Linked DNA regions of Homo sapiens. The protein of the gene in region 2 interacts with the protein of the main gene of each other region in a pairwise test. Each region holds a gene or a part of one and is shown on either strand. Other genes may lie near its edges.

Region 1 (3,652 bases), 110 kb from region 2:
GGTCTTCTGTGAAAAATCCTTGTCCTGGGGTCTGCACAGGGTAAGGATGCTGTCATTTTATTATCATCGGTCATTATCACAGGCCTGTGAATCCGGGTGCCTGCCAAACCCTAAGCAGGCCACACCCTTGCCTCCATTTCCCAGGGTGCAGGGGCGGCAGGACCTAGGAGTGAGCCAGAGGCAGGGGCCAGGAGTGCAGGTTACAAAGCCAGCCGCCCTGGGCTGAATTCTGGCCCTGCCGAGTTCTCACTCCCATGCACCACGACAGCCTCCTCCTCTGTAAACTGGGACCCATCATGCAAGTCAACAAATATTCATCTGTAATTCCAAAGCCCAAAAAACATTTGTAAGTTTCTGGCAAATGCATTTGGTGCAAATCCTGACCTGAACGAATGGGAGGCTATTTATAATCTTGACACATCCCCCTTAGTGTGAAACTGCATATGTTTCGCTGCAGACACTGCCATGTGTTTGAAGCCAGGTCTCTCCACACACATGGCGACCGTAAGGTGCCAGCGAGGCGTGGACGAAACAGAAGTCAAGGGCCACCGCCACTGCCTGGGGCCTCCAGAGATGCAGCCAGTGGAGCCAGGATGTCCTATTTTTCAAAAACGCCTGGATCTTGAAATGTGTTTAAAAAGCAAAACAAAATTAAAAGAAACCTTTTTTTTTTTAATTTGGCTCAAAAAATTTTTAAACACTGTGCAGAGCAAATAAAACTCATGGGATGCCGTAATGAGAGCCAAAGTGAGAATTATCCTGAATACTGTGGGGGCAAGAGGAATGAGAGGGACAGGGAGGAGGATATCCTCACCAAGACCTCAGGGCAGGCAGGGCCAAAAATATTGTCTCTGCCAATGCAAAGACAAGAGACGGGAGCTCCAGGGGTGTGATAAGCCGTCTGACTTCTTTAGCCCTGAATTTTGCCTGGGTTTGCCCAGTCCAGGCCCTAAATTGTGGGAGCTGCAAGGGGAGGTGGGCAGGAGAAGGAAGGGGTCTTCAGAGAATTCTCATCCGTAGCCCCAGTTGCTCGGGGTGAGGGGTGGCTGGCGGATAAGGAAACGGCATAGCACTTCCAGGCCTCGGGGGCCTCCTGGTCTGGAGTCTCGGGGATTCTGTCCACAGTTTTGGCAATAGCAGGAGCCTCAGGCTTCATGAGGCTAGGAAGGATGGTGCAGGAGTAAGCTGTAGAGCCCCCAGAGGGGGTCAGGGAGACCCTGAACACAGACCGCAGGGCTCAGGGGATGGAGGGTGCTGGTCTGACCCCTGTGAGAAGCAACTAAAAAATAGAAATAGGTTATGGACCCTCAAAACCTCAATGTTCATTCTGCTCCCTAGATTATAAGTGAAAAACAAACAAGCAAATAAAAAAAAAACCTGAACATATTCATGGACAGGCTGAAAGAATATACACAACACACTCAGGAAGCTTCCAAGTCAGCTGTACATCTCACCGCCCTCCCTCCACCAGCTGCTGAAATCCATCAGGAGCTAAAGATTATAGATCACAGGTGTTTGAACCAGGGGGAAGGTGAGGGACTGTGGAATCTAACTTCCTTACTTTACAGATTAAGAAACTGAGCCCAGAGAGGCTGAGTGGCTTGCCAAGGTCACACAGCACTTCATAGCTAAGTCTTCTCACTGCATGTTTTACTGACTGAACGGAATCACAAGTTCATTCCCTTTGATCAGGATTGCACACCAGGGTGGTGCAGGAATCAATGAAACCTGGGGCAGGCCATCATGGGCTTCCTGCTGGAGGGAAGGGAGGCAGTTTGGGCCTCACTGGCAAAAGCTCAAGACTCAGTGCCAGGCGGCTAGGTTTGAGTTCGGGCCCCAGCACTCATTAGCTGCTTGGACAAGTCATTTAACCCCTCTCAAGTTTCCTGGTCTGTAAAATCGGGACCAAAATAATAGCACCTACTTCATAGCACTGTGGTGAGGACTGGGAGAGTTAATGTGTAAAAGGCCCGGAAGAGTGAAAACTTTTAAAGTGTTGGTGATGGTGACAGTGATGGTGATGATGATGGTGACGGTGATGGTGATGATGATGGTGACGGTGATAGAGATGGAAGGAGAGGAGAGGAACTGCTGCTCATCTGGGGACCAGACAGGCACCCAGAGGAAGGTTCCAGGGCGACACTCTAGAATGCATAAATATCTTTTTTATTAAAGCATTTGTTAGAGCATTTTTTAAAGAATTTCACTTGGTTCTCCAGCTTGTTCAGTCTTTCCTGAGAATGTTCTCTGAGCAAGACCTAGGCTGTTCTGTGTGGAATCTGCCAAGATTGTCAGGCCCAGTCCCTGTCCCCAGGCCTTCAGGGTCTGGCTGCACGAGCGCTTCCAGGTCAGACCCAGGTGGTGTTCATCTCTGCATCTCCAAAGCTGGCACTCTGGAGGAGCAATTGGGTGGCTGGGAGCAGAGAGCATGGGTTTTGGAGTCAGACACATGGTTCGACTCCACCTGCCAGCCATATTACCCGGGACAGGGCATTTGCCCTCTCCTGACATTTATACCAGGAACGTACTCAACTCTCGTGATGGGGCTGTGTGGAAGATTAACAACAATATCTGTGATGAACCATACCGTGGGCTAAGTATGCAGCAGGTGCTCAACAGTTGGCAGCTGCTGTTAATAATGAACGTTGAGTATGATGACTCGGGAAATAGAGATGCTCCTTGACCTACAGTGGGGTTGCCTCTCAATAAACCCATTGTAAGCTGAAAACATCCTAAGTCAAAAATTCATTTAATACCCCGACAAACCCATTGCAAACTTGAAAAGTCGTAAGTTGAACCACCCTAAGTCTGGACCATCTGCGCGAAGTTTCCAAGTTAGGAGAAGGAAGTGGTGAGCCCCATGGCTTGGCTCTCTGTGCTCCTGGACAGGGAATCTTCCCACTGGGAAAGCTCCCCGAGGGTCTGCTGCCCTGGGCACAGCTTCCCCCAGCCCACCCTACTCCACAGATCAGTAGCACCAGCTCTGAGCACTAGGCCAGGAAGCACTGGGCTAAGCCCTTTACACCGATTAGCTCATCTCATCTTCACAACGGCTCTAGAAAGCTAGTCCCATGCTCATCCTCATGCTATGAGTGAGGAAATCGTGGCTTGGAGGCACAGAGACAGGACAGACGTGCTCCCCAGACTCTATAGGCAGGAAGTGGCAGAGCTGATACTCAGAACTGGAGCAGTAGAAAGTCATCGGTGACTGAAAACCCATCCTGAGCTGTGTAGCACTGAAGGGCAGATATTTGGACTCCCACTCCCCACAGGTGGCACTTCAAGCTGCCTTAGCCCTCGAGACTTAGCCAGAGGGATGACTCCTTCAAGGCAGACTGCCCTGCTCCTGATGGGCAGCTGGGATGAGAGGGAGGTGGGAATGAGAGGTCAGGAGTGAGAGGTGAGGGCAGGACAAAAGGGCCTCCTTCCTGATTTCTCTCGCTAGCTGGACATCTCCCTGATGGCCTCCTGAGGCTGCCCTGCCCACTGCAATAGATCAGATGATTGGCTGGGCGCGGTGGCTCATGCTTGTAATCCCAGCACTTTGGGAGGCTGAGGGGGGTGGATCACCTGAGGTCAGGAGTTCAAGACCAGCCTGGCCAACATGGTGAAACCTCATCTCTACTAAAAGTACAAAAATTAGTCGGGCGTG
Region 2 (3,652 bases):
ATCTGCAGTGAACATTTTTATGATCAGGTGTCTTTAATGATGTAAAAAAGCAAATTCACAGGAAAGGGTAAAAGTTTGCTCTTACTCTGTTTTGTGTTGCTATAACAAAGTACCACAGAGTGAGTAATTTAAAACAAAAAGAAATTTATTTCTTATAGTTCTGCAGGCTGGAAAGCCCAAGATCTAGGGGCCACATCTGATGAGGGCCTTCTCTCTGCATCATAACACAATGGAAGGCGTCACATGGCCAGAGAGTGCACGAGAGACAGAGCGAGGGACGGTGGAACTCTCACTTTTACGACAAAACCACTTCTGCAATAACCAACACACCCCTGTGATAACAGCATTAATCCGTTCATGAAGGCAGACTCCTCATGACCTAATCAACTCTTTTCTTTTCTTTTCTTTTCTTTTTTGAGACACAGTCTCGCTCTGTTGGCCAGGCTGGAGGGCAGTGGCGCAATCTCAGCTCACTGCAACCTCCACCTCCCAGGCTCAAGCAATTCTCCTGCCTCAGCCTCCGGAGTAGCTGGGATTACAGGCATGTGCCACCACACCCGACTAATTTTTGTATTTGTAGTAGAGACAGGGTTTCACCATGTTGGCCAGGCTGGTCTCGGACTCCTGACCTCAGGTAATCCACACGCCTTGGCCTCCCAAAGTGTTGGGCTTACAGGCGTGAGCCACCACGCCCAGCCCTAATCAATTCTTAAACATCCAACTTCTCAACACAGGTCATTGGGGGATTAAATTTCCAACACATGAACCTTGGAACACATTCAAACCATAGCAGGCTCCTTTTCAAATAAATTTATTGCAGCAAAAAAGTGAACCAATTTAAAGAAAAGTGTGAGGCACAGGGCCAGGCAAAAGTGGTAACAATGGGCCGGGTGTGGTGGCTCACGCCTGTAATCCCAACAATTTGGGAGGCTGAGGTGGGCAGATCACTTGAGCTCAGGAATTTGAGACCAGCCTGGGCAACATGGGAAAACCCCGTCTCTACAAAAAATATACAAAAATTAGCCAGCATCGTGGCAAGCGCCTGTAGTCCTAGCTACTCGGGAAACTGAGGCACGAGAATCGCTTGAACCCAGGAGGTGGAGGTTGCAGTGAGCCGAGATTGTGCCACTGCACTCCAGCCTGGGCGACAGAGCGAGACACTGTCTCAAAACAAAAAAGGTGATAATGATGTCTGAGAAACGCTGATCTTCCATTCGGCCCTCTGTGAAATGAGGCCTGGATGGAAAGACGGTTCCAGGTAATTTCTGCTTTTGTTCCTGTAGCACAGAAGTCAGAGAACAGAGAAGCCAGGTTCCCTTCTTGGGATAGGGGATGGGAGAATGCTTGACACAAAAATAAAGCCCTCGAGGTTATCCGCTTTCAACCAGCTGCCTTGGAGCTGGCAGCTGCTGCTCATTCATTCAGTCAATCAACAAACATTGCCTTGGACACTGTGGGGGACACAGGGCTGACCCAGCCATGGGCCCTGCCCTCTAGGGTTTTCTGATCTAGGAGAACACATTTTTGTCTTTATGCATGAGAAAGTGGTTTTCCAGACCCAGAGAGAGAGATGATACAGAGCAGAGCTAAAGCCCCCCTGCCCCACACACATCACATTCACACACACAGTCGTAATCACATATGCACACAGTCCCTCACACACACTCATATGCACACACCTCACAGTCATACACACTGCAGCCATCATTCAATCCCCCTCCCCCACCCCATGTAGTAACATTGAAAACTACGCAGGAGCACTGGGACGGTTGCTGTGGGAACCGGGATTCTGAAATCCTAACTTGTGGGCATCTGAATTCTTGCGCTGAACATTCTAATACATCAGCCACAGAGTTTATGCTCTGAATTTGGAGTCATTTCTCCTCCAGGGGCTCAGGCTGGGCAGCCAGCCAGGGAGTTAGCGAGGACGGCAATTAGAGGGCTGAAGACTTTCTGCCTGATGATGAAGAGGCCCACACGGTTTCCTGGAGAGGGCTGTCTGCCAGGGTGTGCACGCGCACATGCACAAGCTCAGGCTCAGGGGGTATGTCCGTGGAATCTGCTCAGGTGAAGCTCCAGGAATGTGTAGTGGTCATGTCCGAGTCTTCAGGCTCTGTATCGGTCAGGCCGGACTAGGCAAGGCTGTAGCAACAAGGACACCCCCAAATCTTCATGGTTTAACATGATAAGGGCTTACTCCTTACTCACACAAAATCCAAGCTGGGTCAACATCCCCTTCCCTCTTGCAGTTCCTCCGCAACCCAGGGCCTCTAATATCCTTCAACAGGGAAGACGTAAATGGAAATGGCTCACTGCCTCTTCCCTGCTTTGGCTCAAAAGCAGGCAGACGTCTTCTGCCTAGGCTTCAACCAGCCCAACCTAAGTGCAAGAGAAACCAGGAAATGCAGAGGAGTTCATAGGCAACCACAACAGTCCCTGCCCCAGAGCCTCCCTTTGTGCTTTGCAAGCCCAAACATCCCAGCCCAGAGGGGAGGCAAGTCCTTGGAGACAGTTTAAATCCGGGCTCTGCAGCTTGCTCACTGGGTGGCCTCAGGCCCACGCATCAGTTGGGTTCCCACCAGGAAACCTAGAATAGGAATTTAAAGGGGACTTATTTACAGAAGAACTATTTACAAAGGGTAATGCAGTAAGTAGAATCTAAGAGCAACTTCTGGCCAAAGGAGACACAACCAGGGAGTGGTCAGTGAGTCCGAGTAGGAGACAGTCAAGGAGAGGTCACCTTGAATAAGCAATGTCCTTCACATGAGGGACACAGCCTACCCGAGGGACCTCACAGGGGGGGCCAGAGGAATAAGTGTCACATCTTCGCTCTCCTCACTTCTGCCTAGCTCTGCTAAGGCTCCCCATTGGCTGAATCTGACAGAAGCCATAAGGCCCAGGAAGACAGGGGTTAATCCAAACAGATCAGCCTCCCAGGGCAGAATGGATAGTAGCTCTGGTGGAATAAATGGACCCTATCTGGCAGGGACAACTGATTTTTGCTTTTGGAGCCTCCTTTTCCTAATCTGTAAAATAAGAATGCTAACACCTGCCTCATTGCATTGTTGAAAGTAAATGGAATAGGCTGGATGTAGTGGCTCATGCCTGTAATCCCGGCACTTTGGGAGGCTGAGGCAGGCAGATCACCTGAGGTCAGGAGTTCGAGACCAGCCTGACCAACATGGAGAAACCCCGTCTCTACTAAAAATACAAAATTAGCCAGGCGTGGTGGCGCATGCCTGTAATCCCAGCTACTCAGGAGGCTGAGACAGGAGAATCGCTTGAATCTGGGAGGTGGAGGTTGCGGTGAGCCGAGATCAAGCCATTGCACTCCAGCCTGGGCAACAAGAGCGAAACTCTGTCTCAAAAAAAAAAAAAGAAAGAAAGAAAGAAAGTAAATGGAACAATATATGCAAATATGCAAATACCTGTCCTTCATGAATGCTAGTTTCTTAGTGTCTGAAGGCACTTTGCAATCCAGTGGTTCCCAGTCCAGGATGTGTCAATTATTCTAAAGTCTGATATGAAATTCTCAAACAAATTCTATAAACAAAATTTTCTTTTTCTAAATCACTCCCACTTTCGAGCTTTTTCTATATGTCAAGTATTTCATAGGCTGTCTCATTTCAGTCTCACAATATTTTCCTAAGAA

The links. The genes of interacting proteins can lie anywhere in the genome.
Region 1: the proteins of CD6 (region 2) and CD5 come close enough for resonance energy transfer, tested with the Homo sapiens proteins (one study listed by BioGRID).

What each region holds. Positions count from the first base shown.
Region 1 is NC_000011.10:61,108,856-61,112,507, forward strand, and holds part of CD5 (T-cell surface glycoprotein CD5 isoform 1 precursor), read left to right. Parts: intron 1-3,652. UniProt on the Homo sapiens protein: Lymphoid-specific receptor expressed by all T-cells and in a subset of B-cells known as B1a cells. Plays a role in the regulation of TCR and BCR signaling, thymocyte selection, T-cell effector differentiation and immune tolerance.
Region 2 is NC_000011.10:61,002,567-61,006,218, forward strand, and holds part of CD6 (T-cell differentiation antigen CD6 isoform 1 precursor), read left to right. Parts: intron 1-795; exon of another isoform or gene 796-2,379; intron 2,380-3,652.